Linked DNA regions of Homo sapiens. The protein of the gene in region 6 purifies or fractionates together with the protein of the main gene of each other region. This does not show direct contact. Each region holds a gene or a part of one and is shown on either strand. Other genes may lie near its edges. The genes, in order: NECAP1, PPP6R2, ZNF787, C1orf116, LRCH1, MOB1B and PPP6R1.

Evidence for each region.
Region 1: the proteins of MOB1B (region 6) and NECAP1 fractionate together in Homo sapiens (co-fractionation; one large-scale study listed by BioGRID). This does not show direct contact.
Region 2: the proteins of MOB1B (region 6) and PPP6R2 purify together in Homo sapiens (affinity purification with mass spectrometry; one large-scale study listed by BioGRID and IntAct). This does not show direct contact.
Region 3: the proteins of MOB1B (region 6) and ZNF787 purify together in Homo sapiens (affinity purification with mass spectrometry; one large-scale study listed by BioGRID and IntAct). This does not show direct contact.
Region 4: the proteins of MOB1B (region 6) and C1orf116 fractionate together in Homo sapiens (co-fractionation; one large-scale study listed by BioGRID). This does not show direct contact.
Region 5: the proteins of MOB1B (region 6) and LRCH1 purify together in Homo sapiens (affinity purification with mass spectrometry; one large-scale study listed by BioGRID and IntAct). This does not show direct contact.
Region 7: the proteins of MOB1B (region 6) and PPP6R1 purify together in Homo sapiens (affinity purification with mass spectrometry; one large-scale study listed by BioGRID and IntAct). This does not show direct contact.

Annotation. Positions count from the first base shown.
Region 1 is NC_000012.12:8,088,543-8,092,839, forward strand, and holds part of NECAP1 (adaptin ear-binding coat-associated protein 1), read left to right. Parts: intron 1-1,393; coding exon 1,394-1,494; intron 1,495-1,652; coding exon 1,653-1,757; intron 1,758-3,226; coding exon 3,227-3,308; intron 3,309-4,133; coding exon 4,134-4,242; intron 4,243-4,297. UniProt on the Homo sapiens protein: Involved in endocytosis.
Region 2 is NC_000022.11:50,345,961-50,350,257, reverse strand, and holds part of PPP6R2 (serine/threonine-protein phosphatase 6 regulatory subunit 2), read right to left. Parts: intron 1-4,297. UniProt on the Homo sapiens protein: Regulatory subunit of protein phosphatase 6 (PP6). May function as a scaffolding PP6 subunit. Involved in the PP6-mediated dephosphorylation of NFKBIE opposing its degradation in response to TNF-alpha.
Region 3 is NC_000019.10:56,100,612-56,104,908, forward strand, and holds part of ZNF787 (zinc finger protein 787), read right to left. Parts: intron 2,617-4,297; 5' UTR 2,607-2,616; coding exon 2,528-2,606; coding exon of another isoform or gene 2,226-2,527; exon of another isoform or gene 1,039-2,225; intron 1-1,038. UniProt on the Homo sapiens protein: May be involved in transcriptional regulation.
Region 4 is NC_000001.11:207,029,639-207,034,697, forward strand, and holds the start of C1orf116 (specifically androgen-regulated gene protein), read right to left. Parts: upstream 3,119-5,059; 5' UTR 2,941-3,118; intron 1-2,940. UniProt on the Homo sapiens protein: Putative androgen-specific receptor.
Region 5 is NC_000013.11:46,741,441-46,745,737, reverse strand, and holds the end of LRCH1 (leucine-rich repeat and calponin homology domain-containing protein 1), read right to left. Parts: intron 4,097-4,297; coding exon 3,890-4,096; 3' UTR 840-3,889; downstream 1-839. UniProt on the Homo sapiens protein: Acts as a negative regulator of GTPase CDC42 by sequestering CDC42-guanine exchange factor DOCK8. Probably by preventing CDC42 activation, negatively regulates CD4(+) T-cell migration.
Region 6 is NC_000004.12:70,908,595-70,912,891, forward strand, and holds part of MOB1B (MOB kinase activator 1B), read left to right. Parts: intron 1-4,297. UniProt on the Homo sapiens protein: Activator of LATS1/2 in the Hippo signaling pathway which plays a pivotal role in organ size control and tumor suppression by restricting proliferation and promoting apoptosis.
Region 7 is NC_000019.10:55,234,221-55,238,517, forward strand, and holds part of PPP6R1 (serine/threonine-protein phosphatase 6 regulatory subunit 1), read right to left. Parts: intron 2,751-4,297; coding exon 2,693-2,750; intron 2,602-2,692; coding exon 2,423-2,601; intron 1-2,422. UniProt on the Homo sapiens protein: Regulatory subunit of protein phosphatase 6 (PP6). May function as a scaffolding PP6 subunit. Involved in the PP6-mediated dephosphorylation of NFKBIE opposing its degradation in response to TNF-alpha.

The DNA.
Region 1 (4,297 bases), on a different chromosome or scaffold from region 6:
ACTGCAGTAGTCTCTTAGCTAATCCCCCTGCTTCAGTCCTCTTATCCCAACAGCTTTTCTCCAGACAGCAGATGTAGTAATCTTTTTAGAATATAAGGGAGATCATGTCACACCTCTGCTTAAAATTTGTAATAGCTCTTTTTTCACTCAGAGTGAAAGCTGAAGTTGTTACTATGACCCACAAGGCCCTGCGTGATCTGGCCGTCTGTTACCTCTCCCACCTTGTCTCTTCCTCTGTTCTAACCACAGTGCTTCCTTGTTGTCTCTCAAACATGCCAGGCATGCCCCCACCGTAGCACCTTTGGGCTAGCTGTTCCTTATGTCTAGAATGCTTTTCCCCCAGACATCTGTATGGATAACTCTCTTGCTTCACATTCTAGCTCACATTTCACCTTAATGAGACCTACCCCAACCACCCTCTTGAATGCTACAACTTGTTCATTCTCCCACTGTCTTCTTAATCTTCCTAATTTGCCTCTACATTTTCTTTTTACCTTAGAACTCACCACTTTCTAAGATACTAATTATGCTGTTTATTATGTTTCTTTTTTATTTTCTATCTTCTGTTAGGATGTAAGCCTCATGAGGGTTGGAATCTTTGTTTTGGTTGCTGTTGTATCCTAAGCATCTGGAACAGTGATGCATCTGTCCTAATAAGTACTGTATAAATATTGATTGAATTCAGTGAAAGATAGTATATTTACTGATTTGGGAGGGCTCCCATTACCTAGGATATTTAATGTAGTAGACTTTGTTGTTATCTGATTAGTAAAGCATGGTTATCTAGTATACCATCTATAGTTTGAAAATAGCATCGTTATGAGAAATTTTATTTATTTCTTTATTTGAGACCAAGTCTCGTTCTGTCGCCCAGGCTGGAGAGCGGTGGCGCAGTCTCGGCTCACTGCAGCCTCCACCTCCCAGGTTCAGTTGATTCTGCCTCAGCCTCCCAAGGGATTTCAGGCGCACGCCACCATAACCAGCTAATTTTTGTATTTTTAGAAGACGGGGTTTCACCGTGTTGGCCAGACTGGTCTCAAACTCCTGACCTCAAGTGATCCACCCACCTTGGCCTCCCAAAGTGCTGGGATTACAGGCTTGAGCCACCATGCTCGGCCAGAATTTTATTTTTTATTGCTTTTATTCGTGCTTTTCCATCTTTTTAATGATGCTTATTGGACTCCAAAGTCCTCAAGTAGTAGCATTGTCTTTTACTTGCTTTGGACTGTATGTAACATGAGGCATCTAAATAGATCATGAATTATTCTTGTTGATTAATAGGTAGAAAGAATAGGCAATCCAGGATAGGGAAATAGAAATACAGTCAAAGATTGTGGGTGGGCGTTAGTAAATTAAGGACATGTGCCTGAGGCTTCCTCTTTTCCTGTCCTAGGGCCTCTGACTGGAAATTAGACCAGCCTGATTGGACTGGTCGCCTCCGAATCACTTCAAAAGGGAAGACTGCCTATATCAAACTCGAGGATAAAGTTTCAGGTAATCTTTGCGGGTGACCCTCTAACATTAAGAATATTAATTTGGTGTGCTTTTATAAGTACCTTCAATTTGGGGACTGGAATGGAAATACTACTTGTTAATTGGGGTTCTGGATTTTGGCTTGCTTTACTCAAAAAAGTCTTTCTCTTATCTGTCAGGGGAGCTCTTTGCTCAGGCACCAGTAGAACAATATCCTGGTATTGCTGTGGAGACGGTGACAGATTCTAGCCGCTACTTTGTAATCCGGATCCAGGATGGTACTGGTAAGAGAACTGGGATTTTGAGTGGAACGAAGTTAGGAAAACAGGTGAATGCACAGCCATGAAAAGTGTTTCCGATTGCATTTATCTTTCTTTGGTTTACTTCATTTTTTCTTCCCTTTCTCTAAAGTTGCTCTAGTTGCTAAAGGAAAAGTATTAACATGTTATTTGTAATAGATAAGCACGAGTTCAAGATGTGGTAATTCATATGTAGACTTAAATAAATGAAAAACACATATCTAACAAATGAATTAACACATTTGGCACTTTAGGAGGCCGAGGTGGGTGGATCACCTGAGGTCAGGAGTTTGAGGCCAGCCTGACCAATATGATGAAACCCTGTCGCTACTGAAAATAAAAAATTAGCCAGGCGTGGTGGCAGGTGCCTGTAATCCCGGCTACTCGGGTGGCTGAGACAGGAGAATCACTTGAATTGGGGAAGTGGAGGTTGCCGAGATCACGCCATTGCACTCCAGCCTGGGCAACAAGAGCAAAACTCCATCTCAAAAAAAAAAAAAAGAATGAACACTTTTTGCCCGTTTATTGTTCGTGGTAGTTTTTGGTGGGACTATCTTGAATCATCTTACGTGTGGGGCAGTCATTCTTACTCTTTTCTCCATGGTCTATAACAGAGGTTGGCAAACAGACAAATAATAAATGTTTTAGGTTTTGCAGGTCAGGTGGCCTCTGTTGCAACTACTCAGTTTTGCTGTTGTAGTGTGAAATCACTGTAGAAAATATGTAAACACATTGATACCACTATGTTCCATGAAACTTCTTCTACAAAACCAGGCTATGGCAGGATAAAGCCCATGGGCTCTATGTAGTTTATCGACTCTTGGTCTATGAGAAGATATTTCACATTCAGACTTTGTCTAGTTAGGGTGACTGTTATATTTTCATTGGGCAAAATTTGCCATAGAGCAGCAGTCCTCAACCTTTTTGGCACCAGGGACCCGTTTTGTGGAAGACAGTTTTCCACAGACCGGCATTAGGGGATGGTTTCAGGATGATTCAAGTGCATCACATTTATTGTACACTTTATTTCTATTATTATTACATTGTAATGTATAATGAAATAATTATACAACTCACTATAATGTAGAATCAGCGGGAGCCTTGGGCTTGTTTTCCTGCAACTAGACGGGGGTGATGGGAGACAGTGACAGATCATCAGGCATCAGATTCTCATAGGGAGCTCATAACCTAGATCCCTCACATGTGCAGTTCACAGTAGGGTTCACACCCCTCTGAGAATCTAATGCTGCCACTGATCTGACAGGAGGCGGAGCTCAGGTGGTCATGCAAGTGACGGGGAGCGGCTGTAAATACAATGAAGCTTTGCTCTCTCGTGTGCAACTCACCTCCTGCTGCATGGCCTGGTTTCTAACAGGCCACAGACTGGTGCCGGGGGTTGGGGGCTCCTGCCATAGAGGATACTTCCTAGTCGAGTCTTCCTACGTTTTCCACAGGGCGCAGTGCTTTCATTGGCATTGGCTTCACAGATCGGGGAGATGCCTTCGACTTTAATGTCTCCTTGCAGGATCACTTCAAGTGAGTGAAGCTTGTCCTTAGTTACGAGGCTGAATGCTTATAGGAATGCTGCTTCTCACATGAATGGGCAGTATCTCTTTTCCTCCTGGTTTCTTTGTTTCTTAAACTATTTCATTGTGAATATAAATCTCCCCATTCACTTTTGTTTCCTTAGGTCATCTTTGTATCTATTCTGTTTCCTTTCCTTATAGCCTGCAATATATTTCAGATCCCTTGTGCAGTAGTTTGAAATGATGCTCTGTCGAATTTGCCCCGTCTTTTAGGTGGTAGAGGGAGGCCTATGGTAACAGCAGGGCTTTATGTGGGGAGTCGTGTGCCACTCTTGTTACCTTATGTAGCTGACATGTTTTGTGACTTTTGCAACATTTCTTTAGCCCACTTGATTTTGGTGCAGCTGTGGTTGACAGCACTGTGCACACTGTCAGCTTCCTACCTCAAGAGCAAGCATATCTCTCCTTTTCTGCCTTAGGACTCTCTGAAGTTATAGAAAGCTAAGAGCAAGCTTTAACTTGGAAAGACTAAGAAACTAACACCCCCTCAGGAGCAGCCCTCAACTGTGGGGAATGGGAATTGGTGGCTAAATACCATCCTTCTGGAAGGGGCAATTCTAATACGTATTCCGTGAGATTTCTCAGAGAGTCCCCAGTGGAATTGAACCCCAGTTGTTTTCTTTCTTGGCTTTTTTCCCTTCTGTTTCTCACTCTTTTTTATCTCTCACTGTGTTTTCTGGAATCTCATTTCATAAAAGTAAATACACCCAAATTTGTATGTCAGACTCTGCTTTCAGGAAATCTCAAACTAAGATAACTTGCTGTGTTCCCAAAGGTGGGTAAAGCAGGAATCTGAGATTTCCAAGGAATCTCAAGAAATGGATGCTCGTCCTAAGTTGGATCTGGGCTTCAAGGAAGGACAAACCATCAAGTTGTGTATCGGGGTGAGTATGGTTTTTAAAAATTTTGTTTTCCTGTGCTTCCATAAGCCTATGACAT
Region 2 (4,297 bases), on a different chromosome or scaffold from region 6:
ACTTCGTCTCAAAAAATAAGTAACAGAACTAGAAGTAGAGCCTGAAGATGTGACTGAATTGCTGCAATCTCAGGATAAAACAGATAAGGAGCTGCTTTTAATGAATGAGCAAATAAAATGGTTTCTTTTTTTTTCTTTTTGAGACAGAGTCTTGCTCTGTTGCCTAGGCTGGAGTGCAGTGGCACAATCTTGGCTCAGTGCAACCTCCACCACCTGGGTTCAAGGCATTCTCCTGCCTCAGGCTCCCGAATAGCTGGGATTACAAGCATGCACCACCACGCCTGGCTAATTTTTGTATTTTTAGTAGAGACGGAGTTTCACCATGTTGTTCAGGCTGGTCTCGAACTCCTGACCTCAGGTGATCCACCCGCCTCGGCCTCCCAAACTGATTACAGGCGTGGGCCACCACACCCAGCTGCTTTTTTCTGTTTTTTTTTTTTTTAAGATGGAGTTTCACTCTTGTTGCCCAGAATGGAATGCAATGTTGTGATCTTGGCTCACTGCAACCTCCGCTTCCCGGGTTCAAGCAATTCTCCTGCCTCAGCTGGGATTACAGGCGCATGCCACCACGCCTGGCTAATTTTTTGTATTTTTAGTAAAGACGGGGTTTCACCATGTTGGCCAGGCTGGTCTCGAATTCCTGACCTCAGGTGATCCACCTGCCTCAGCCTCCCAAACTGCTGGGATTACAGGCATGAGCCACTATGCCTGGCCACATTCTGCTTTTGTGGGTGTGCTTTTATTTATTTTTGGCAGAGATGGGGCCTCACTATGTTGCTCAGGCTGGTCTAGAACTCCTGGCCTCAAGTGATCCTCCCGCCTCAGCCTCCCAAAGTGCTGGGATTATAGGCACGAGTCACCACGTCCAGCCCGTTTTTTTTTTTTTTTTTTTTTGAGACAGGGTCTCACGCTGTCGCCCAGGCTGGAGTGCAATGGAGTGATCACAGCTCACTGCAGCCTTGACCTCCCCAGGCTCAGGTGATCCTGCCACCTCAGTGTCCGAGCAGCTGGGACTATAGGCGCACACCACCATGCCCAACTTTTTTTTTTTTTTTTTTTTTTGAGAGGAAGTCTCACTCTTGTCGCCCAGGCTAGAGTGCAATGGCACAATCTCGGCACACTGCAACCTCCACCTCCCAGGTTCAAGCGATTCTCCTGCCCCAGCCTCCTGAGTAGCTGGGATTACAGGCGCCCACCACCATGCCTGGCTAGTTTTTTTTGTATTTTCAGTAGAGATGGAGTTTCACTATGTTGGCCAAGCTGGTCTCGAACTCCTGACCTCAGGTGATCCGCCCGCCTCAGCATCCCAAAGTGCTGGGATTACAGGCGTGAGCCACTGCGCCCGGCCCTGCTTTTTGTTTTTGTAGAGATAGGGTTTTGTCATGTCCCCAGGCTGCCCTGGCCTTAAGTGATGCTCCCACCTCAGCCTCCCAAAGTGCTGGGATTACAGGCGTGAACCACCGCACCCAGCCCATGTGCTTTTAAATAAATAGCCATCCCCAAGGCTTTATACCTTGCCCCCATGATGACAGTTGTATACCTGCGGCTTGGCCTCTCCTCTGGGTTCCAGACCCTCCTGTAAGATACCTTCTCCCTAGTGACCCTCGGACTTCTCAGACTTCCCCTACTTTCAGCCAAGAGAAAGCCTTGCTTTCTACTTCCAAACTGTAGTAACACCCCCAGCCCTGACACCACCCTAATTCAGCTTCCCTATTTCAATAAACAGTGCTACTATCCACCCATTTGTTCCATCAGAAAGCCTAGAAGGGTTGATGGGGCTGGGAGGATAAAAGCAGCCCAGAAATTACCCTGAGTCCATTCATTCTCTCACACCTCTCTTCTCATCTACCAACAAGTCCCAACAGCTCTACCTCCAAAATATCTCCCTAAACCCACCACCAAGTTCTAAACCATTACAATCACTACACCCAGCTCCCAACACTTCATCTCACCCCCACCTGCTGTCCACGTGCCAATGTCCATATGATCATGGCACTCTCCAACTCAATCTCCAGGCCAGGTTTCTCCTACAACTCAGACTGAAGGTCCAACTCCCTACTAACACCTGCAAGGAACGGCTTAATGAGAAAACCAACTTTCCAGCCCAGGCTCCTGCCTCTCTCTCCCTTACCATAAGCACATCAGTCTTATCTAGGTTCCTGGAGGATATCACACCCAAAATTTCCCACTTCAGGGCCTTTGCATGTGCTGTCCTCTCAGCATGGGAGACTCTGTCCCCCAATTTGTCTCAAAGCTAGCTGCCTCTCACATTCCAAAGATTAACTGAAGTGAGTTAGAAAAGTCAAAGGGGAGAGATATATACACCTATTGTGTACCCACAACATTTTAAAGTAAAAAATAAAAACAAAGGGAAGATAAACCAGAAAAAGGGACATCAAAAAGAGGTGAAGAGCCTCTTTCAGTGAACAGTGAACAGTGTCGGCAACTGCAGGGGCAAGGAGAAGCCAAGAGCAGGGCAGAGAGAGGCCATGAGGGAAGGGTGGATGAAAGAACAAGACACAGGAGAAGGGTCTAGAACAAAATCAGTGGGTACAGTGACAAAGAGGGGGCTGCAGTGAAAGGCAGGGACTAAATGGAAGTGACAGACTTGGGGGAGCTGGTGCTGACAGGTCAGGGAATGAGCAGCAAATTGGGAGGAGTCAGTAACAAGAGAGTGGACAAAGCAGGTAGGGAAGCTGCGAGTACACAGAGTGGCAGGTCGGGGGACAGTACGGTGCATGGGGGAAGGTGACAGGCTGAAGGAAGAGATGATGGGGATGGAAGCAACAGGGCAGTGCGGGGTAAGGTGAGGTTAGATGACTGGTGATATCTCAAGCCGTGATGGGGAGCGCGACAGGAAAAGACGAGTAGTGTTGGAAAGGGTTAGGAAATAATGGAAAGGGGAATCAGTGATTGGACAAGAGGGGTGATGACAGCGGGCACTGAAAGTTCTCCCACTGACAGGCAGGAGAGAAGCAGTGGGGAGACACTGACAGGTGGGGTCACTAACAGCAGGGCAGGGTACTAATGGGTCCCTAACAGATAAGGGATGAAGGAGGTAGCATGAAAGGGGACAGGAACTGACAACAGGGGAGAACTGATGGGGAGGATCTGACAGGCACTAACACAGAGGCCGATAGCAAAGAGCGGAAGGGCCACAACAGGCAGGATGAGGGAGACACTTATGAGGGAAACTTACTGACAGTGGGGCTCACTGACAGAGGCACTGGCACTGATGGGGGGCACTGACAGAGAAGATCAATGACAGGTGGGGACATTGCTGACAGAAGGGGTCACAGAGCGCTTGGACTGACAAGGAAGGGCACTGGCAGGGGAGGGATTATGCGGTCAGTGACTGACGGGTACGGGTGGGGGTGCAGGCACTGATGGGAAGTGGGGACATGACAGAAAGAAAATAATTGACTGGGGGGGCACTGGCTGACGGGGGACAGGGATGCGGGACTCTGACTGGGGGACACTGATGGGGAGCAGAGTGGACTGACGGTGGGGGAGCACTGACCAACAGTGGAGGCACTGACCAGTGCGCGGACTGACAGATGCGGAGGCACTGACCGACAGGAGGAGCATGACTTGCAAGGGGCACTGACTGACGGTGGGGGGCACTGATGGGTGGGGTGGGGACTGATGGGTGAGGTGCAATGACTAGCTAGCAGGGGACACTGACTGGTGCAGGAAGCACTGACTGGTGTAGGGTGGGGGAACAGAAGGAGGGCACTGACTGGGGGGGCACTGACTGACTGGGAGGGAACTGACTGGAGGGGGCCCTGACTTGGGAGGAAACTGACTTGGGGGGCACTTACTGGAGGGGAACTGACTGGAGTGGGCACTGACTGGGGGCACTGATTTGGGGGGCACTGACTGGAGGGGGCACTGACGGGGGAACTGATTGCGGGGGGAACTGACTGGGGGGGCACTGACTGAGGGGAACTGACTGGGGGACACTGAAGGGGGCACTGACTGGGGGGAACTGACTAGGGGATGCACTGACTGGGGAGAACTTACTGGAGGGGCACTGACTGGAGGGGACAGTGACTGACTTGGGGGGGGCACTGACTGGGGGGCACTGACTGACTGGGGGAACTGACTGGAGGGGGAACTGACTGACTTGGGGGGCACTGACTGGGGGGCAACTGACTGGGGGAACTGACTGGAGGGGGCACTGACTGGGTGGGTCACTGACTGGAGGGTTCACTGACTGGGGGGAACTGACTAGAGGATGCACTGACTGGGGGGAACTGACTGGAGGGGGGCACTGACTGGGGGGGAACTGACTGGA
Region 3 (4,297 bases), on a different chromosome or scaffold from region 6:
CACACACGCCATGGCCAGGCCAACACCCGCCACCCCACCCCCACCTACGATGTCTGTCACTGTCACATAGGAGGGACGCACATAAGCGGGACCCCACATGCTATGGCCAGGCTAACCCCCGCCACTCCACCCCCACCTACGATGTCTGTCACTGTCACACAGGAGGAATGCACGTAAGCGGGACCCCACATGCTATGGCCAGGCCAACCCCCGCCACTCCACCCCCACCTACGATGTCTGTCACTGTCACATAGGAGGGACGCATGTAGGCGGGACTCCATACGCCATGGCCAGGCCAACCCCCACCACTCCACCCCCACGAACGATGTCTGTCACTGTCACATAGGAGGGACGCACGTAGGCGGGACTCCACACGCCATGGCCAGGCCAACCCCCGCCACTCCACCCCCACCTACGAAGTCTGTCACTGTCACATAGGAGGGACGCACGTAAGTGGGACCCCACATGCTATGGCCAGGCCAACCCCCGCCTACGATGTCTGTCACTGTCACATAGGAGGGACGCATGTAGGCGGGACTCCACACGCCATGGCCAGGCCAACCCCCGCCACTCCACCCCCACCTACGATGTCTGTCACTGTCACATAGGGGGGACGCATGTAGGCGGGACCCCACACGGGAGTTACGCGAACGCCGGACACCAGAGCAGCTTGGGAGCGTGCGCAGCCCATCTTTGACAGCCGAGCAAGGGCGTCACGCAGGGGTGATGCTCCAGAGGCGGCGCCAAGCGCAGGCCCTCCCCGGAGCCAGCTGCCTGGTGGGGGACAGGACTCCCACAGACGCAGGGCCAGGGCTGGGCAGGGCAGCGGGCTGGACAAGGGGACCTGACACCTACCTTCTACAAAGAGAGTGAGTGTATGAGTGACTTGTAAAATTAAAGATGAACTTACTCAAAGACAAGCATTTTGGAGACAACGAAGTATTTTAAAAAGGACCGGGTGCTAGATTAGATGAAGTTCCTGAAAAATGACATTTTGTTAGATGAGATCAGCTTCCTGTAGGGCTTTTTCTTTTTTTCAAGGAGTCCTTACATGTTGGAGAATTTACAGACAAAATGATGTGATGGATATTTTCTCTAAAACGCTGTGGAAAGAGAACCACAGTGGGCAGAAAGGGACCAGCAGTGCCGCGAATCGCTGGCGCAGGAAGAGGGATTCATCACACTGCGTCCACACACTTGAGATTTCCACAGAATTAATTTTCGAAAAGGTTCGAAGGCCAAGGATGTATGCGAGGGAGAAGGCAGGGGCAGCCCTCGAGGGCTGTGGCGGTGCGGGATGGCAACCACCCACTGAGACGCGGGGCAGCCTGGGGCCGGGGTGTGGGCCCCCTGGGCATGCGGTCCTGGCAACGCACTCAAAACCCCCATCATAGTTTCTACCCCGGGACCAAGGCTGCCACAGCCCCGCCCACAGGGAGCTTCTGTTCATGCTCCATCCACAGATCTCAGAAATCACTCAAAAAGGGGCTGAGGTGCTTTACAAAATCGATCCCAAACTTCACCCCGGTCTTTGTATGGGACGACTCAGCTATGCCAGCCTGAGCTGGCAAGCTCTGCCGGCCTTTCTGCATCAAGTGTGCCCACGCATTTCCGTGTGGACTGTGGCTGCGTGGTATCTGTGAGGCCCGCAGCCTGCAAGATGAACAGTATTTCCTCTCTGGCTCTCTGCAGAAAAGGTCTGCTGAGCCCCGGCCAGCGTGGGGCCAGCGTGGGCCTGGGACCTGGGGCCTGACATGCAGACACAGCAAGGAGAGAAGCTGCCGCACCTTATTCCTCAGGTCTGAGGCAGGGAGGCGGCCTCCGTGGAGGGGAGGGAGGCCATGAGGTGTCAGGGGCCACAGTGAGGTCACCATGGGGCCTTCGCAAGCAAACCTGGGCCCCACGTAGCCCACAAATGAGTTTTGCTCAACCCCAATAATGCTTTATTAAACAAACAAAACACATTGCCAATGTCCAAAAAGTGAAGGATTTCACATAAAAACCCAAACTGACAACTTTCCCTGAAAAGTCTGCGTCAGCCTGCGGGTTCCCTGCACTCCTGAGCTTTCCCTGAAAAGTCGGCATCAGCCTGCGGGTTCCCTGCGCTCCTGGGCCACCCCTGGTGTAAGGAGTTTCCTGCCAGGGAGGGCCACAGGCCCGCCTGGAATCATAGCAGAGGGTCCAGGATGTGGAGGCGGGGCTGTGGGGAGAGGAAGGGGGCACCCTCAACAGACGGGGGTGCTGCCCAGGCTGGAGGGGCAAGGACAGAGGAAGTCAGGCAGAGAAGGTGGCCCCCAGGGGTCCCCAAGATCATCCAGCAGAAAGGAAACTTGGAGCCACAACACTAGCCCTCCCTCTACAGCCAGGAGTGCAAGGCCCAGGGCGGGAGGGGAGGCCAGGGTCGGGTGGTCCCAGGGCCCCAAGAGGGGAAAACAGGGAAGGGGGGTTTCCTCCCACCCAGAGGCAAAGGAAGCCAGGGTCAGGTGGGAGGCAGCGGGGTCGGCTGGGAAGGCCTCTGGCTGCTCACCTGGGTTCTCGTGACTGGCCATCTGCTGGTCCTCAGAATCCAGCGGCCCCGGAGACCAGGCTTCTTCCCGCAGCTCCATGTCTGGGTCCCTGTTAGAAGGGGATGAGACAGAAGGACAGAGTTTATGGGGTGCCAGGCTGCACCGAGGGCCCTGCAGGGAGGCAGCCTGCAGACCCCGGCGTGACAGGCACAGCGCCCGGCAGACAAGGCACACAGCACCTACCCCAGGACACCGAGAACTGGCCTGGAGCTAGCCTGGCCGCTCCCCACTGCAGGGGCCAGCCAAGGCCTCACACAGCCGCAGGAAGGACTCAAGGACCCTCAAGGGCTACAACCACCGCCAGTTCCCATCCCAGCCCCACCACTCCCCAGCTGGACCTGGGGCAAGCAACCCCACCTCGCGCCTCCTCGCGCCTCAGCTTCCTCACTGGCAAGATGGAGAACATGTTACTGTCAAGCGTACACAAGACAGTGTACATGTGGTGCTCATGCCAAACAGGGACTGGAGTTCCCACACCCCTGGCAGATACTTACCCATCACAGCAGAAACAGGGCAACAGGCGCCTAAGGGTCTCTGCACACGACACTCCCAACCCGTGCCACACACCGTGAGGGTCTCTGCGCACGACACCACCGACCCGTGCCACGCACCAGGAGGGTCTCTACGCACGACACCACCGACCCGTGCCACGCACCGGGAGGGTCTCTACGCACGACACCGCCGACCCGTGCCACGCACCGGGAGGGTCCCTACGCACGCCGCCGACCCGTGCCACGCACCGGGAGGGTCCCTACGCACGCCGCCGACCCGTGCCACGCACCGGGAGGGTCCCTACGCACGACACCGCCGACCCGTGCCACGCACCGGGAGGGTCCCTACGCACGACACCGCCGACCCGTGCCACGCACCGGGAGGGTCCCTACGCACGACACCGCCGACCCGTGCCACGCACCGGGAGGGTCCCTACGCACGACACCGCCGACCCGTGCCACGCACCGGGAGGGTCCCTACGCACGCCGCCGACCCGTGCCACGCACCGGGAGGGTCCCTACGCACGACACCGCCGACCCGTGCCACGCACCGGGAGGGTCCCTACGCACGACACCGCCGACCCGTGCCACGCACCGGGAGGGTCCCTACGCACGCCGCCGACCCGTGCCACGCACCGGGAGGGTCCCTACGCACGCCGCCGACCCGTGCCACGCACCGGGAGGGTCCCTACGCACGCCGCCGACCCGTGCCACGCACCGGGAGGGTCCCTACGCACGCCGCCGACCCGTGCCACGCACCGGGAGGGTCCCTACGCACGCCGCCGACCCGTGCCACGCACCGGGAGGGTCCCTACGCACGCCGACCCGTGCCACGCACAGTGAGGGTCTCTACACACGCCACTGATCCGTGCCACGCACCAGGAAGGTCTCTACGCACACCACCCACCCGTGCCACGTACCATGAGGGTCTCTACACATGACACCACCAAACCGTGCCATGCACCAAGAGGATCTCTACACACACCACCAACCCGTGACTGTGAAAGTCTCTACGCACACCAACACCAACCTGTGCCATGCACTGTGAGGGTTCTCTACGCACACCACCAAGCGGTGCCACGCACACACACAGCTAAAGTGGAGAGCAGAGCCTTTGCCACGCGCCCGAGTTGTTGAAGGGTTCATACCCAGATCTCTCTTTTAAAACAGGCTCCCTGGCTGGATGCGGTGGCTCCCACCTGTAATCCCAGCACTTTGAGAGGCCAAAGCAGGTGGATC
Region 4 (5,059 bases), on a different chromosome or scaffold from region 6:
GTTTCTAACCTATAACTGTCAGCTTTTACTTAAATACTTAATTTCCTGGATAATATATGGCTCAGTGAAATTTGGGCAATGTTTTCAGTTAAACTAACATTTATGAGCACCTAATAATAGGCGCTGGTGTTACAAAACTGTATAAGACAAAGGCATTGTTGTCAAAAAGTCAATGTAGATCTAAGGGTCTAGTTTTGGGCTCCAATTTTCTTCTCTGTAAAATCAGGGCAGTAAATATTTAAAGTGACTCACTGTAATTAACATCATATTCTCTATGAATGGGTGAGCAGATGCTGCCTCTTACTTTCAGAGAAAATTACTACCCTTGTGCTTCTAAGTATGCTTTAGACTTTACAGAGGTTTTCTAGTCTCTCTTTCCTACCAGGGAAGCTTATCACACTTTTGTTTCAGAACCTAGGATGTCTTCAAGTAGCTGGAAGAGATAAAAGTGGTAGGAAAAGCACTGCTTCACAAGAACACAGCATGCCATAGCTTGCAAAGTACTCTCAGATATGCTAATTCGATCTTCAGCATAAACTGGAAACATAGGCAGGATGTGACGTTTTCTTCATTTTACGGGTGAGAAAGTTATGGCTCTTACCACTAGCCCTTCCTAAGGGAAACAGGGAATGACCTATACATGCATATACAGGGCAGCCCTCCACAGGGCATTTCAGGGACTATCTGGATGCAAGAGGGGCATGCCCCCGAGAATGGTTACTAGCCACCCCTGACTAAAATACTAAAAGCCTTAAAACCCCCTTCTCCTTCTACTTCATACCTTAAACCCTGCAAATCATCTGCTTCAGCTTTATACTTCCAGACCAGTGTATTGCCCCAACAGCAGATATTTCTACAGTAAAGAAATGACACCAACTGCCAAGGAAGATCATGTCTTTAGGGATTACATAATCCCTGCACAGAGGAATCTGAACCTGAAACCAAAGCTGAGCGAGGCGCTGTCACCTCATCTCCATACCTAGTTTTCTGACCTAAAGAATCTTAATGGTGAAAGCTGCATTTCCTTTCACCGACTTCACAACCTTGAACCTTGGGGCTCTTTCAGGGCAGCCATCGAAACCCTGATAAGAAGACTGAGAAACAAACAAAACACTCAAGGTGAGAGTTTGGTATCTTAACCCTTGACCTCTTTGGGAACTTAACGGGAGGAGGGAATGGGTTAAGAAATATGCAGCACCTATAGTCAGGGCCACCCATCCAAAGACACATTAAATATTAACTACACCACTGACTAAAATACTAAATACTGCCAAGCCTTGGAGGAGAGGAAATAAAGAACAGTTCAAGTTCTGGCATCTGGAGATGGTGGGGTGGGGAGAGGGCTCCAGCTCCATTCCAGGTTGGCTTGTCTGTACCTTCTAATCAGACCCAGGTCCCTCTCATCCTCCTCCCACGAACCCCCCACATGTCCTCCAAGAGCTTTGCCTCTCTGCCTACTAGTCAAAGAGGTTTCCTGTCTTTCAATCCAGGTGTCTTTGCTTCTTGTTGACTACCCAGAAATGTGCCTTGGGCTGGAAAATATCCTAAGAAAAATAGCAGAATGACTAAAACTTGCACAGTTTGCATATCTGTCTCCATGAACACATGGGCAAGTTTCTGTGTGTGTTTAGGCAACATTATCATCTTCCCTTTCACCAGTGTGTTTGAGGGAAGGAGCAGGTAGAAATACCCTCTGCATAGCAGAGCTTTGTTAGACACTGCCAGTGGTCTTTATTCCTAAATTCACCATCTAGGGCAGCCCTCAGTCTGTGAGTGTGGGGTGTTGGCTCTGTGGTGTGAGGTGAGCTCAAGCCTAAATCTCCAGTTGCCAGGACTGGAAAACCCATATATTCACTCAGGGCTGCGTGTGCCAGGCCCTTGAGCCTGGCACTGAGGGCTTCCCACTTCCCTCTTCTCTGCAGCAGGAGGAAAAGAGTCAAAGTTAGGGACCAAAGGGTTAAACCCCCCAAGATGGATAATGGAGAGGCAACTTGCTACTCTGACTCGACTCCTACATCTGCCTTCCTTCTGCAGGTAAATCTGCCACACAAACTGCCAACTGGGACACCTGCAGGAAAACAAACAAAGCCACCACCCTGGTCTGCTTCTCTGTCTGTGGACTCTGCCACACTACCTTGGCTTGAGCCCCACTTGGAACTCTAACTAGACTTGACATGCAGCCACGAAATATTCATGTGGGTGAGGCTCGGCACAGCCAGGTAGCTTTCTGTTTGCCAGTCTCTGTGTCTATTAACAGGCTGAGTCAGAAAGTTAATTGAGTAGAATCCAAATAAACTTGACTTTGCAGCTAGATTATCCATGGGTTTTCCAAAGATGAGCTGGTAGCTGAAGTTTTCTCCATGTGCCCCAACCTCATATCCCTTTACAAACAACCTAGTACAGCTCATGCCTAACACACCTGTACACAGAGAGCTCCATTATCACATGAGCATGATCAAACACACACACACATTGCACCCATTATTTAAATAAAGATCGACACCGAGTTGGTAAAGCCACGGGAGAATTTCCTGTTACAGTCGCTATGGAAAACCAAGATACTCTCCCCCATTTTGACTCCCTCTATTTCAACTGTTCTTTTCTAAAATCACAACTCAATTTCAATTGTTCAGAGATGGAAATTTCCAAAACAAATCTATTTTCTTTTTCTTGTTGTTTGCACAATATGCCTATCCAACCTAAAGGGATAAATGAAAAAGAAGGTGCCTCCCAGCCCCAGTCTCCACAAAAACACTACAATCTCAAGTTGCTACCAACCTGATCTGATCCCAGAATGGACTCAGAGAATTGAGGAACAGAGAGGAAATCTCCCTAGCTGGGGTATAGAGGGACACCTCCCCTCCCCTGTAGCTCTGATTTCCCATGAAACCCCTTCCTATTGCTATAGGATAAGCAATAGTTGGTTAGTGATTAACTCACCTCCACTGGGTTGGGGGCTGAAGAGAGAAAAGAAATACCCTTTTGTTTCAAAGGGCAGAGATGGAGACAGAGGCTGCTTCCCCTGCCTCCTACTGTTTTCTTCTCCTTTTGAGCTCCTCCTGACTTACCTAGATAGGTAAATGCTTCATCTGTGCTGCCTGGCCCCCACCCTGCCACTGACTCAGCCAATCCTAGCCTCCCCTCCCTACCTCTCATTCCAGCTGTTTCCTCAGGGAGGGAATGGGAGGGGAATGAGCAGGGTGGTGCTGTTCCCTCTTAGCCAATCATCTCCTACCCTCCCCTTTCCTGTTTAGAGCTAATAAAGAGCTCTTTAAAAAAGGAGGGCTGGAAGGAGGAGGAGCCGGTTTGGGCTGAGACTGGAAGGACAGGTGGCAGGGAGGGAGTAGGCAGAGATAGTATATATATTTAATGTTGATATAAAGGAACGCAGACAGTCCTCTGGGCAGTGTGCTTTTCCATAGGTCTATGTGAAACAGGTTTTTCATCTAGAACTACCTTCTTCCGCTTGGAGCTTAGTTTTCCCCTGAATTCTCTAGGCTAAACTCATTTGTGTTCAGTTTTGCTGCTAGCTTTTCTAGATGTTGAAAGTCACTTTCTTCCCCAAGCCTAATCCTAGCTCATAAGCCTAGCAATTCCATTCATGTCCACTGAAGAAGGTGTCCCCAGGCTAGGGATGCTGTAGTTGGGCCAGTCTCGCCCCAGTGCTTGCCAACAATCTCCTTGGCCTAATTTATTTCTGGGGGAAATAAAACCATTCATCCCCTAAGAGGTCCGTGTCCTGATGAAAGAGTGACTGGACAGCTTGAAAGGAGAGAGCATGCACTCTGTCATTTGGTCCTCTGCTCTCTTTTGGCTGTTCATGGAAGGTGGCAATACATATTATGAAATAAAAACAAAACAAACTACCAACCAGTTTAGCAACTCTTGTCTCCTTTCATGGACTGATACTTGGCATTCGTAGGGAGAAGAGAGTAGGTAGAAGAATCTACTATTTTTGGGAAGAAATTTCCCACCAGGTACAGAGACCACTCTTAACAGATATGATTTTTGCCTGGAAGCTGGTTTTTCCTACAGGTAGATTATCCTTGATAGGTATCAGGATTTGAGGTATTCCACTTACTAGCATTAAAAGGTCAGGGAGAAAATTTAAAATCAATGTACACAATAATTGCCAAAATGTATTAAGCTCTTGCTATTTGCTAGGTATTGTGCTGAGCATTTTCATGTATCTTTTAATTTAGTCTTTAACTTAAAAAAGTAGGCATTTGTTAATATCTAAATTTTACAGGGAGGTTAAAAATCTTTTTCAAGGCCATGTAGCTAGGAAGAGGCAGGGCAGAGATTTTAATTCAGGCAGTATAACATCAAGGTTGCTATGAATCAGCATAATGCCAATCCGCCTCTATTTTGGAAGGAATCTCAAGTGGGAATCATGAAATACACAGATAATTTGCAAGTGTAATTCTAGCTATTAGATTCGTCCTTTTCTGTTTCATTTCCTACTTAAAGCTATTAATATGTTTTATAACAAGACGACACATGGCTTTCATCTTTTCTCTTTCTGTGATCATGGTTGGATAGGAAATAAAAAGGGCAGTGATCCTGGGGCCAAGGTAAAGATGAAGTGGAGCAGGACTAATGGATAGGAAGGAGGTTGGAGGAAGCCTGGGATAACCCAGTACCCTATCAGCAGCCTATGGATATCACAGCTGAATGAGCACTTCGGGCTATGACCTCTTTCCCTGGTGTGTCATTCAAACATATATGATGTCATAATACTAACAAAACAGGAAGGGCATCTCCAAATCAGCAGTTCAGTGCAACCAGAGTCACACCCATGGATGAAGTCAATGAAGTTGATCCAGCTCCATAGGTGTGTGATTTGAACATTTGCTAAAAAAATGAATTGACTTATGAGAATTAACTTCCAAGAGGATAGTAGGCAACAGTCTTATTTGTGAACAGACACAGTTTTTCAGTTATAATAAAATTAGGATAACTAGGAGGAACCCCTATCTTTTACCAGGTAGAAGCAGGGACATAGACAAAAATCATCTTTCCCTTCCTCCCTTTCCTCTCAAAAACTTTTTCTTTTTGT
Region 5 (4,297 bases), on a different chromosome or scaffold from region 6:
AGTCCTGGCACTACACTGTTTGAGCTTTAAAACTATCTGTGTGTTATTTTGATGTACGAGAGCTTTAAGTTCCTGCATCAGTTTCTTCAATGTGAAATGGAGACCATTCAACATCTTACAGAGATTTCTTGTTGCTCCTCCCTGGATTATTTACTTTGCAACCATGCTACCTTCTAGTCCATCCTCTCCCTAGAACACTTCATTCTCTACACACACATATGCCTCAACCCTAGTCCCTCTCCCCTCCCCACTCCACCTGGCTATTCCTGAACGTTTGCTAAGTCTCAGTGGAAACACCACCATCCCAGGATGCGTTCACGGTCCCCTATTCCCCATCAGGGTCAGGTCTCTTTTCCAGAATCCTGTACCCGTTCCACCACAGGTCCTTATCACTTGAATTCCTCTTTACTTGTCTAAGGACCTACTAGATCAAGGGTGGCAAACTATGGCCTACAGGCTAATCCAGCCCGCAGCCAGTTTTTGTAAATAAAGTTTTATTGGCACACAGCCACACCTATGTTTGATGTATTGTCTAAGGCTGCATTTATGGTACACAAGCAGAACTGGGTAATCCCAACAGAATCTGCATGGCCCAAGAAGCCTAAAATGTTTCCTTTAGGCCCTTTATGAAACAAGCTTGCAGACTCCTGCTATAGACTGTAAGCTTTTTGAGGACCAGGCCATGTGTCCCAGTGACTTTTTTATCCCCAGGGCCTTGCAGAGATTGCTCATTCAATATTTATGGAATGAAGGAATGAACACAAAAATGAACAAAGTCACAGTGAAAAGCCAGGCAACTAGACTCTGACCATCTTAAAGAAGAAAAAAAGGGCACATTCTATATACCAAATTGATTGTTTATTGAGAACTAATTTTGAAATACGAAGCCTAATTTTTAAAAATCAAGTCTCCTGAAATAAAATCATATTAAAGTATTTTTCACCTAATCCAAAACAACTTTCAGTTTCTTAAAATTTTAAAATATCATCCCTACTTTTTCCCCACAGGCAAAGGCAAAACACCCTTTTGTCCTTATGACTCAATCAGGCATCTACATGAGTTTTCGAGAGATAACCCAGCTCACCACGCGCTAGTTTTAATTTCTTACAAACAAATAGCAGCAGGCTATCAAGTGCCTTTATTTATCTACTCTCATTGATGAAATTTATACTCGATTATCATACATTGTAGTTCTGCGGGGCCCCTTTCCACCAGCCCCATTTCATAAGTGTCTCTCCCTAAAAATAACAAACCAGAAATCCATAAATAGGAAAGATGATTAGAAATTAGGTGTCACAAATTTTGGAATTCCTGACACTGAGTGGAGAGTTGCCACCAGTTGGAGAAACTGGAGAAAGAGAATACAAATGGCTATTTCAAAATAAAATGTAAATAGATACTTGGCTCCTTTTATCTAACATTGGAAGGGAGTACTGAAAAAACGGTCTTTCTTGTGAGGAGGAGATTTGGTCAGCACAATAAACCACTCAGTGACATCCCTGACTACTTCTCAGACTCTAAGGAGGTCAGCCAGGTATCCCCAGTCAAGCTGCAAGGGCAGGCATCCGCAGGCATCCAGTTAGCATATGGGCTGGTGCACGGGTACCTTGGAGAAAAACCACAGAGAAGCTTAATATTCTGATTAGAAATTAATGGGTTGGCAATGGACAGAACAGTTCATTCAAATTTTTGCCTAAAGGACTAAATTAATTGTGTTCTGCTAGTTACCATACTACTAATGAAAAAACATCATCCAATAAATCCCAAGAAGTGCAGCGCAGCAGAGTACAGACAAATTAATGACACAAAAAAAATCAAAGTGCGTCCAAAGAATACTTTGGATGCCAGAATTAAAATATAAATGTCTTTTAATTTGTCTTTAACATGTTTTAATTGAACTATATCAACACTGAAAATTAAATCTACTCTTACATGAGTGTCCTACTCAGTTTTTATTGATATTATTTTAAGGTGGCAACCCAGTAAGTTTTCTTTTTTTTTTTCCCATTTTCTCCCCAGAAAGAAGGGAAAAACCACCACAGTGGTGACCATTAAAGAGAAGCCTCAATGCACTGCAGAGCTGGATGGGAATGCTGAGAGCTCATGAATACATGTATCAATGGGCTGATAAAAACTTGGAATAATCACCCAAAATGTGTTTATTAAGCAATTTATGGCTCAGGGTGCTCATTAGACATCGTACAAAGGGATTTTATTGTGTTACAGATTGAAGAGTACAAGATAGCACCAAAAGTAATTCAGTACATCTGTGGGTTATTCATATACAACTGAGGTTAATTAGATAACTTCCACATACCCTGCATTTCACCAATCAACACAAAGTCAGGAGGAAAAAAAACTCACATAACTCAAGATACTGTCATGTAAAGAATGCTTCCTGTTAGCAAATCTGATCTGACTTAGCAGCAAGGAATCTTTATAAATATATTCTTCTAACTATGTGGGTCTTCCATATTTTCAAGTCCCCTGGATTCATGAAAATGTTCAGAAAAATAAGATTTTCTTCGTAGTAGCCATCTATGAGAGCTGTTTGCATCTTAATAAACTAGAAATTTATCTTGAGGAAGCTAAGTCCATCATCTCCCCAAGCTAAGAAACAAGATTTGGCAAACAGCATGTAAAATAAGGAGGCTGCCTTGACCTTGGAACAAGGCCCTCTCATATTATACAAAGACACCCCTGAATCCAGGGACATTCTGGCTAAGATAAAATTCTTTTTTTTCCTTTTAAATGCAAACTGATCACATTGCTCCAAATGCAGATATAGTTACTATATAATCCTTTGAGCTGACTTAAAGCAGTTTGCTAGTTAATATCAGTGAAAATCAAAGGCTAAATGAACATTTCAAATAATTAGAGAAACTACATTCTTCTAGAATGAAAGTAATCTTCTTCTTGACTCCTGCCATCATAACCCAAGCACCAGGACCAAGAATGTTCCACGGCTCATGGCTTTATTTGAAAATGAATAGAGTCGAATCCGTCACATTCTGGACCGGCAGTTACTATGTGATGTGGCAAAAAAGCAGTGATCCGTTCCATTGTTCAAAAATAGAAATCTCTCTGGAAAACGCTTTTCTAAGAGCCTCAAGAGAAGACCTAACAAGGAATTAAGCAGTAAAAAACTGGTGTTTAAGTGACTCCTCCACGTGAGGCTCTAACAGCAACGACACTTCCTTCCCTTGAGCGCCCTTCTGCATAGGACAGAGGGGCTTGCCGGGGTGGAAGTTGGCGGCCACACTGCCCAGCGCCCTTCGCGGCTCCCTTTTTAGGAAATTTGGGAGGAATCCAATCGAATGGCCATCAAGGCAGTGTGAGTACGTGTACACGTCCAACTTGGTCAGTAGTGGTATTATTAAAGTTTTGTATAGATCAAGTTGGGCCAAAATGTTAGTTTTCTGTCCTCCCTGCAAGGTGGCCCCTATACAGCTCAATTGCCCAGTCCCGAATTAGAATTCTAGTTCAATACTGACCCAAAGGAAAGACTTCCATATGCTAAATCCCTGTCCTTGACACTCTTGTCCTGGAATTCTCCTCCCCTCTGCCCAGGGCAGCAGCTCACCGGGAGGGAGAGGAGGAACTGCGTGGCACTGCTGCTGGCACTATGTGGATGAGGAAGCATGCGGTGTGCATACACTTTGCAGTCGTCGTCGTTGTATTTCAGTAAGTGAGAGGAATTATACTAAACTGTATTCTACAAAGTTTGTGCTTCTGGAAAATCTGATTTGCTACTGTTCAGCTTCAAAACTCGAGAGATAACTGAAGACATGACAGGGATGGAAGTTTGCAAGGCAAAGGCTCAAAGGTAGGAAGGACCCTGCAAAGGTTGAGGGCGACAGAGCACAGCGTTTGGATGCACGTGCAGACATTATGCGGACAGAGCATTCCAGTGGTAAGTGATATAGACCAGCACTATAAAGAGAATATGGACAAGACAGAAGCCTATAAGGTCCCTGGAGCGGAGGGCAGAAGTTGGTGGTGGGGCTTTCTCCCCGAGTGCCAGCAGAGTGTCAACAGTCTTTCGAATGTGACGAAAATCCAACTGCAGGATGTCACACGGAGAGCAGAGGTCAGCCTATTCCGAGGGCAGCCATTAGAACAGAAAGAGACAGTGCATACAATTAAAAATACACGGAGGAACAGCTAGAAAGAAGCACACATTTTTGGTTACTAGCAAATGGCAGGAGTAACCCCTTATTTCAAGCAGGTAAGACCCTTTCATCATCAAAGATTTTTTAATCCATCATAATAGTAGAATAGAATACCTATTTTGTGC
Region 6 (4,297 bases):
AAACCCTGTCTTTACTAAAAATACAAAAAAATTAGTCAGACATGGTGGCATGTGCCTGTAGTCCCAGCTACTCGGGAGGCTGAGGCAGTGGAATTGCTTGAACCCGTGAGGTGGAGGTTGCAGTGAGCCGAGATCATGCCGCTGCACTCCAGCTTGGGCAACACAGTGAGACTTCGTCTTAAAAAAAAAAAAGATTAGCAATTTAGCAGCACTTTGGGAGGCTGAGGCGGGTGGATCATGAGGTCAGGAGTTCAAGACCAGCCTGGGCAACATGGTGAAACCCCGTCTCTACTAAAAATAGAAAAAAGTAGCTGGGCGTAGTGGCGGGCGCCTGTAATCCCAGCTACTCGGGAGGCTGAGGCAGGAAAATTGTTTGAACCTGGGAGGCGGAGGTTGCAGTGAGCCGAGATTGTGCCATTGCACTCTAGTCTGGGCGACAGAGTGAGACTCCATCTCAAAAAAAAAAAAAAAAATTAGCAATTTAGGAAAAGAGACTCATGATAGTGCAATGTTTGTGTCTGTCTCTGTTTCTCTCTAGACTCTTGATGGTGCTATGTTTATATGTGTCTGTCTCTTTCTCTCTAGACTCATGATAGTGCTATGTTTATATGTGTCTATCTCTGTCTCCCTCTGTCTCTCTGTCCCTCACTTCCCCCCAAGCCCCCAAAGCCAGCATTTTGTTTTCAGGCAAATGATTTAACTGATTTTAATGCTTCAGCAGCCTCACCTTTAAAAAAAGTTAATAATTTATAAGAATAATCAAATAGGCCAGGTGTGGTAGCTCATGCCTGTAATCCCAGCACGTTGGGAGGCTGAGGCAGAAGGATGGCTTGAGCCAATTTGAGTTATAGTGAGCTATGCTTGTGCCAGTACACTCTAGCCTGGGCAACTGAGCAAGACCCTGCCTCTAAAAAGAAAACATTAAAAAAAAATAACAATAATAGTTCAATGAGTGTTTACTATGTGCCAGGGACAAAGTGTTTTAAATAGTTCAGTAATTAGCAGGAATCCTATTTTATACATAAGGAAACTAGCACAGAGAGGTTACATAATTTTATCAAAATCATGTGGCCAGTAAATAGTGTAGCTGGAATTTGAGTCCTGGAAGTCTAGGTCCAGAGATCCTGTCTTATACTTCTTTTTTTTTTTTGAGACGGAGTCTTGCTCTGCCACCCAGGCTGGAGTGCAGTGGCTCAATCTTGGTTCACTGCAACTTCCACCTCATGGGTTCAAGCAGTTCTCCCTGCCTCAGCCTCCTGAGTAGCTGGGATTACAGGTGCCCTTCACCATTACAGGTGTCCTCCACCATGCCTGGCTAATTTTTATATATTTAGTAGAGATGGGATTTTCACCATGTTGGCCAGGCTGGTCTCAAACTCCTGACCTCAGGTGCTCCTCCCACCTCGGCCTCCCAAAGTGCTGGGATTACAGGTATGAGCCACCACGCCCGGCCTTTTTTTTTTGGAGACAAAGTCTCACTCTGTCACGCAGACTGCAGTGTAGTGGCGCTATCTTGGCTCACTGCAAACTCTGCCTCCCAGGTTCAAGTGACTGTCCTGCCTCCGCCTGCTGAGTAGCTGGGACTACAGGCGTGTGCCACCATGCCCAGCTAATTTTTGTGTTTTTAGTAGAGATGGGGTTTTGCCGTGTTGGCCAGGCTGGTCTCGAACTCCTGGCCTCAAGCAATCTGCCTGCCTCGGCCTCCCAAAGCGCTGGGATTATAGGTGCTAGCCATTGCGCCCAGCTGATCCTGCCTTATACTATCATCTATAATTAACAAAATTATATCTATATATAGATATATATACACATACACATGCGTGTATATACATATATACACACATATGTATGTATATATGTGTGTATGTATATCTATATATATATTTTTTTCTTAAAGGTGATATTCAAGTGGGCCTTGTTATTAAGGGAAGTCTTATGTTACCAGGCATTATTGTCTCATGATGCTGGGACTCTCTTCTAAGATTCACCAAGAATACACTAGTAGAAGACGAAATAGTAACTTTTAAATTCATATAATATTTAAATATTTTTAACCTTTATCTTTAGTGTAAAAATAATATACATGTTGGAGAAATCACAAAATCATGTTAGGAAAAGGAAGAAAATAAAAATCACTCATAATCACACCTTCAGAGACAACTGTTGTTTGTATTTAGGGATAAAGTTCTGAATCTTTTTTTTTTTGTTTTTTGAGACAGAGCTTTGCTCTGTCACCCAGGTTGGAGTGCAGTGGCATGATCTCAGCTCACTGCAACCTCCGCCTCCTGGATTCAGCGTTTATCCTGCCTCAGCCTCCAGAATAGCTGGGACTACAGGTGCCCGCCACCACGCCTGGCTAATTTTTGTACTTTTAGTATGGATGGGGTTTCACCATATTGGCCAGGCTGTTCTGGAACTCCTGACCTTGTGATCCGCCCGCCTTGGCCTCCCAAAGTGCTGGGATTACAGGCGTGAGCCACCGCGCCCTGCTAACTTCTTCTGAATCTTTTTTATTGCATTTTTGTTTGTATGTATTTAAAAATATACAAATGGATTTCCACCGTGCGTAGACCAGGTTTTTTACTTGTAAATTTTTTTTTGCCAGAGAATAGATTTCTGCAACATCATTTTGAATGGCTGATGACCAAGTATTATCTTACAGTTTTTTATCTGACAACAAAAAAGGATATCAGATATTATATCCTTATAATATATTCTCCACTGTAAGGTTATTTTATTTTTTTCTTTTTGTTATTAAATATATAGAATTTAATATAACATTAAAAAGGATAACATCTTACATATATGTCATATATTATATCCTTATATATAATATATGTTATCCTTTTTAATATGTTGTATTTTTGAGGGAATGTGGGGAGTGGAAGTAAATATGGTCATCTTTTCAGAAAGAACTGTAGTTTTGGGAATTGCAGGACTGACTGGCTTTAGTTTACTTTTATCATGTTTAGAGATAGCTTTTTTTTCCTTTACATACTAGAGTGCAAAATAATTGCCATTTGGTTACTTTTACCATTATTGATTTCTTTCTCTAAGTGTAGTTGCAGTTTTTGTACTTTCGGAGTTTCTGATATATGAAAGCACGTGTCTAATACATGTAGCACTTCCCTAAACTGTGTATTTGATTAGGAGATATTGAGGCAAAATAGCTACATGTTACTTGAAAAATATGAAACAGTTCTACCTGTTAGGAATGTCAAACTGAGTCCTGTAGAGAACTTTAACTCTCCTTTTCTTCCTACGTTTCCATTTTTGTTTTATATTAACCAACTTAAGGCCATCTTTTTTTTTTTTTTTTTGAGACAGGGTCTCATTCTGTCTCCCAGGCTGGAGTGCAAAGGCACTATCTTGACTCACTGCAACCTCTGCCTCCTGGGTTCAAGTGATTCTCCAGCCTCAACCTCCCGAGTAGCTGGGACTACAGTCGCCTACCACCATGCTGAGCTAAGTTTTGTATTTTTAGTAGAGACAGGGTTTCACCATGTAGGCCAGGCTGGTCTTGAACTCCTGGTCTCAAGTGATCTACCTACCTCAGCCTCCCAAAGTGCTGGGATTACAGGCGTGAGCCACCGTGCCCAGCCTTAGGTCCATCTTTTACAACACATTTAATTAAGTATAAGTGTAGCTGTGAAGTAACATTCTTTTACAGAAGTGATTTTTAAATTAAATTTTTTTTTTTTTTGAGATGGAGTCTCACTCTGTCTCCCAGGCTGGAGTGCAGTGGTGCGATCTCTGCTCACTGCATTCTCTGCCTCCTGGGTTCAAGTAATTCACCTGCTTCAGCCTCCCAAGTAGCTGGGATTACAGGTGCCCGCCACCACACCCAGCTAATTTTTATATTCTTAGTAGAGATGGGGTTTCACCATGTTGACCAGGCTGGTCTCAACTTTGTCTTCAGGTGATCCACCGGCCTCAGCCTCCTAAAGTGCTGAGATTACAGGTGTGAGCCACCACGCCCGGCCTTAAATTTAATTTTGAAACATTTTTCAACTTCCAGGAAAGTTGCAAAGAACAGTGCAAAGAACTTCCACATATTCCTTATCCAGAAACCCCATTGAGTTTCATCTGTTGCTTTAACAATGTAATCTTCGACAAAAGGATCCAGTCATGAATCATGTATTGCATCCACTTATGTCTGTAGTGTTTTTCTTTTTTCTTTTCTTCTCACAGAGTCTTGCTCTGTTGCCGAGGCTGCAGTGCAGTGGCCCGATCTCGACTCACTGCAGCCTCGACTTCCTAGGCTCAAGGGATCCTCCCATCTCAGCCTCCTGAGTAG
Region 7 (4,297 bases), on a different chromosome or scaffold from region 6:
ACAGGTGTGAGCCACCGTGCCCAACAAACCTCCCATTTTCAAAACTTACTATAAAGCAACAGCAACCAGGCCAGTGTGGTACTGGATAAAAACAACACACAGACTGATAGAACAGAACAGAGAGGGAAGAAACAAACTCATACATATGGTCAAATATTTCCTTTTTACACAGGTGCCAAGATGATTCAGTGGAGAAAGGACAGTGTCTTCAACAACTGGTGCAGGGAAAACTGGTTATCTATATGTAAAGGGATGAAGGTGGACCACCTCACATCATATACAAAATTTAGCTCAAAATGAATGGAAAACCATAGAAATAATGCTATAAAACTCTTAGAAGAAAAGAGAGGGCTAAGTCAAGATGCTGGATTTGGCAGTGACACACTTGTGCACCAACAACACGTGCAAGGGTATTCACAGCGGCCGCACTCACAGCGGCTGCACTCACAGCAGCGAGCAACAGGAACCTGCCCAAAGGCCTGTCAACTGCAGAACAAGCAATTCAGCTGCAGCTCATCATGCATGGCACTGCCCCACTGCACGAGAGCCAGGGGCACCCAAACACACAACAGGGAAGGAGCTCACAAGCAGAGTGTTGAGCAACAGAGGTCAGACATAAAAGGAGATGCTGTATGCTATATCAAGTGAAAACAGAGACAAAACTCATCTACAGGGTTAGAAGCCAGGACAACTTTACCCTCAGAAGGGAGGATACTGGCTAACAGAGGGGATGTGGGTACTGGGAAGGTCCTGCTCCTGGGTCTGGGCACTGAGGAAGGATATCCATTGGCCACACACTCAGGATCTGTATGTACACTTGTCTATACGCATGTTACATGTCAATAAAAAGTGAAAACAGCCTAATTCCGAAATCAAAAGTCATGAGTCAAAAACTCAGTTGCAGATGATGACTTAGTGTTCAGGCTGTCAAATCTACATGGCATGAACCCATTTCATCACAGCGACTCTGGGGCCGGCCAGTATTAAGAGAAAAAAAAAAAACAATGTAACATTTGCACTAAAATGTCATCACAGCCTGATTGGAGAGGGACGTCATCATCTCTCATTTTACTGGAATTAGAGAAGAGAGAAGCTGCCTGGGACCATCTTACCCCCCTTTCTAGGAAAACGTGTGAGAGCTAACACGAGGAAGTGAAGTGAAGGGATGAAGGAAGGAGACAGGGAGGCGGGAAGAGAGAGACACACACAGACCAAGCCATACCTCAGGACCTGCCTATTTTTTCAGCCACAGAGATTATCCCTTTCTTTTCATAACTTAACTCATTTGAATTAGATTCCTTTTTTTTTTTTTTTCTGAGACAGAGTCTCGCTCTGTCGCCCAGGCTGGAGTACAGTGGCGCAATCTTGGCTCACTGCAAGCTCCGCCTTCCGGGTTCACGCCATTCTCCTGCCTCAGCCTCCCAAGTCGCTGGGACCACAGGTGCCCGCCACCACGCCCGGCAAATTTTTTGTATTTTTAGTAGAGACGGGGTTTCACCATGTTAGCCAGGATGGTCTTGATCTCCTGACCTCGTGATCCGCCCGCCTCAGCCTCCCAAAGTGCTGGGATTACAGGCGTGAGCCACCGTGCCCGGCTGATTTTTTTTAATTTGTTGATTCTTTTTTTTTTTTTTTTTTTTGAGACCAGGTCTCTGTCACCCAGACTGGAGTGCAGTGGTGCGATCTCAACTCACTGCAACCTCCGCCCCCCAGGGTAAAGCGATCCTTCCACCTCAGCCTCTCAAGTAGCTGGGACTACAGGCACACGTCACCACATCCAGGTAATTTTTGTAGAGACAGGGTTTCGCTATGTTGCCCAGGCTAGGTCTCAAACTCCTGAGCTCAAGCGATCCATCCACCTTGGCCTCCTCCCGAAGTACTGGGATTACAGGCTTGAGCCACTGTGCCCGGCTAATTTGTTGATTTCTTAATGCATCATCTACCTTTTTTTTTGAGACAAGTCTGGCTCTGTTGCCCAGACTGGAGTGCAGTGGTATGATCTCGGCTCACTGCAACCTCTGCCTCCCTGGCTCAAGCCATCCTCCCACCTCAACCTCCCGAGTAGCCAGGACTACAGGTGCACACCACCATGCCCATCTAACTTTTGTATTTTTTGTAGAGACAGGATCTCCCTATGTTGCCCAGGGCTGGTCTCAAACTCCTGAGCTCAAGCAATCCATCTGCCCTGGCCTCCCAAAGTACTGGGATTACAGGCACTCAGGGATTACATGAGCCCACCATGCTTGGCCTTGAATTAGATTTCTATCACTCAAAAGTGAAAGTGCCCCCAACTAATACACACACCAATGCAGGTTCCTTATTTTCTTCATTCACTTCAGCCTCAGTCCAAATGTGTTGGGGGGACCCCTTGGCCCTGCCGTGTGGTGGAAGCTTGGAGAAGGGAAACTGGAGGGGGACTCACCGGACACCAGGTGGCTGGCCCAGACGGGCCCCCCTGGCCAGCTGGCTGCCCTGCCAGGCGCCATCTTCTCCATCAGACTCCCCTGAGCCCTGGGCCTCTTCCTCGTCCTCCTCTTCCTCATCATCATCAAACTGCTGGATGCGGTCCTTGTAGCATATCTCAAGTAGGTTGGCGTTGGGCTGCAGGGCACAGGGGTGGGAGGATGGGCCACACTGCCCACAGCCCCACACCCCTCCACCCGCCACAACCAGGGGACAGGGCAGTACTCACGTTCTCATCGTCAGCATTGAGGGAGAAGGTGATGTTGGCTGTCTTGTCAAAAGGTGCGCTAGGAGAGAAGGCAAGGCATGGTGAGAAGGTCCACCTGGGGGTGGGGGCAGCACAGGACAGGCCACATTTCTTTCTTCACTCAACACAGAGCTGACCCTCATTACTTGCAGATTTGGTATCTGCAAATTCACACACAACCCGAACCACTGGTCCTAAGGGGCAACGCATACATGAATATCAACATCTCACATATGATCACTTTAAATCCTTAAAACCACTCATTGAGGTAGGCTGTTTCCCTTGGCTCTAGAAGTGAGAAAATGGGGCTCGGAAATGTTAAGCGACTCTCCTCAGGCTCTTCCAAGGACAGGTGCCAGAGAGGGATTCAGATCCATGCCCTTGTCCCCATCCTTGGGGCATCTGTAGGAGGCTGACACTCACACCAGCCAGGCACAAGCAGAATGTGAGACTACAGCCCAATAAAGCACATCCCCTAACCTCAAGATGTCTACGGTCCGCGGCTGAAATTCTAAATTATGGGAAAAAGAATCACGTCAAAACTTAAACTGTGCCTGCCAGGGCCCCACCTCCCTCACCACGAGGGTCTAATGATCAGGGTCCACATTCTGTCCCACGTGTTACGGACAGTTCAAGGGATCATTTGTCTCAAATTCATGAAAAATTCTGCCACAAAGATCAATGGATAAAGGACAGTTAATTCTTAAAGGACACTAAGTATGTGACAGACATTACTCACGCACTTCATTCTCACAACCACCTTCCAAGGCAAGTGTCCTTAGTCCCTCCTAGACACTGAGAAGCAGCGGAGCAGAGACCACGCTGGGCACACAGTGGGTCTAGGGCAGGGCAGCCCATGTCCCCGTGGCACTGGCAGCCTCAGCTGACCTGGCTTCTGCTACAGGAGCTATGCGGGGCAGCATCTTCAGCCTTGAGATGATCAAACCAGTCATCCACTTTCCATTCCGGAAATCTTTCTGGGTTTAGTTTTGTTCACTTAACTTCTTAACCCCTCTGGAATTTTCTTGGTAGAGGAAAAGCTAACAGTTTCATCCCGAAAGGGGCAGCTGGTGACCCCAATGCCATCTACCAGTCAGTCCCTTCATTCTCCTGCCAGGGTGGGGTTTTCTTCTTTTTTTTTTTAATTAAAAAAGCAGAGATGGTCTCACAATGTTGCCCAGGCTGGGCTGAAATTCCTGAACTCAAGCGATCCTCCTGCCTCGGCCTCCCTAAGTGCTGGGATTAAGATGTGAGCCACTGTGTCCAGCCCAGTTTTCACTTGAGCATCTTCTCCAGGGGTCTCGGCACAGGCCACTGACCCACAAAGACCAACGCTCTGCAAGTCTCCATGCTGGGCACAGAAGCAGCCAACACAGGATATCACGTCTGCATCTGAGAGGACCTCTGTCCAGCTGTGGACTAAGCCAGGAACAGCTGACTATCCCTCATCGTGGTGTCCCTTACGCTGTGCTGTACAGGGACCCCGGGGCAGCCATGGGCAGCCATCCAGCTCCCACACACTAACCAGCTATGTCCTGGGGCCTCAGTCTCCCTGGCCGTAAATGAGCTCATCGTGGGGAGCAAGAC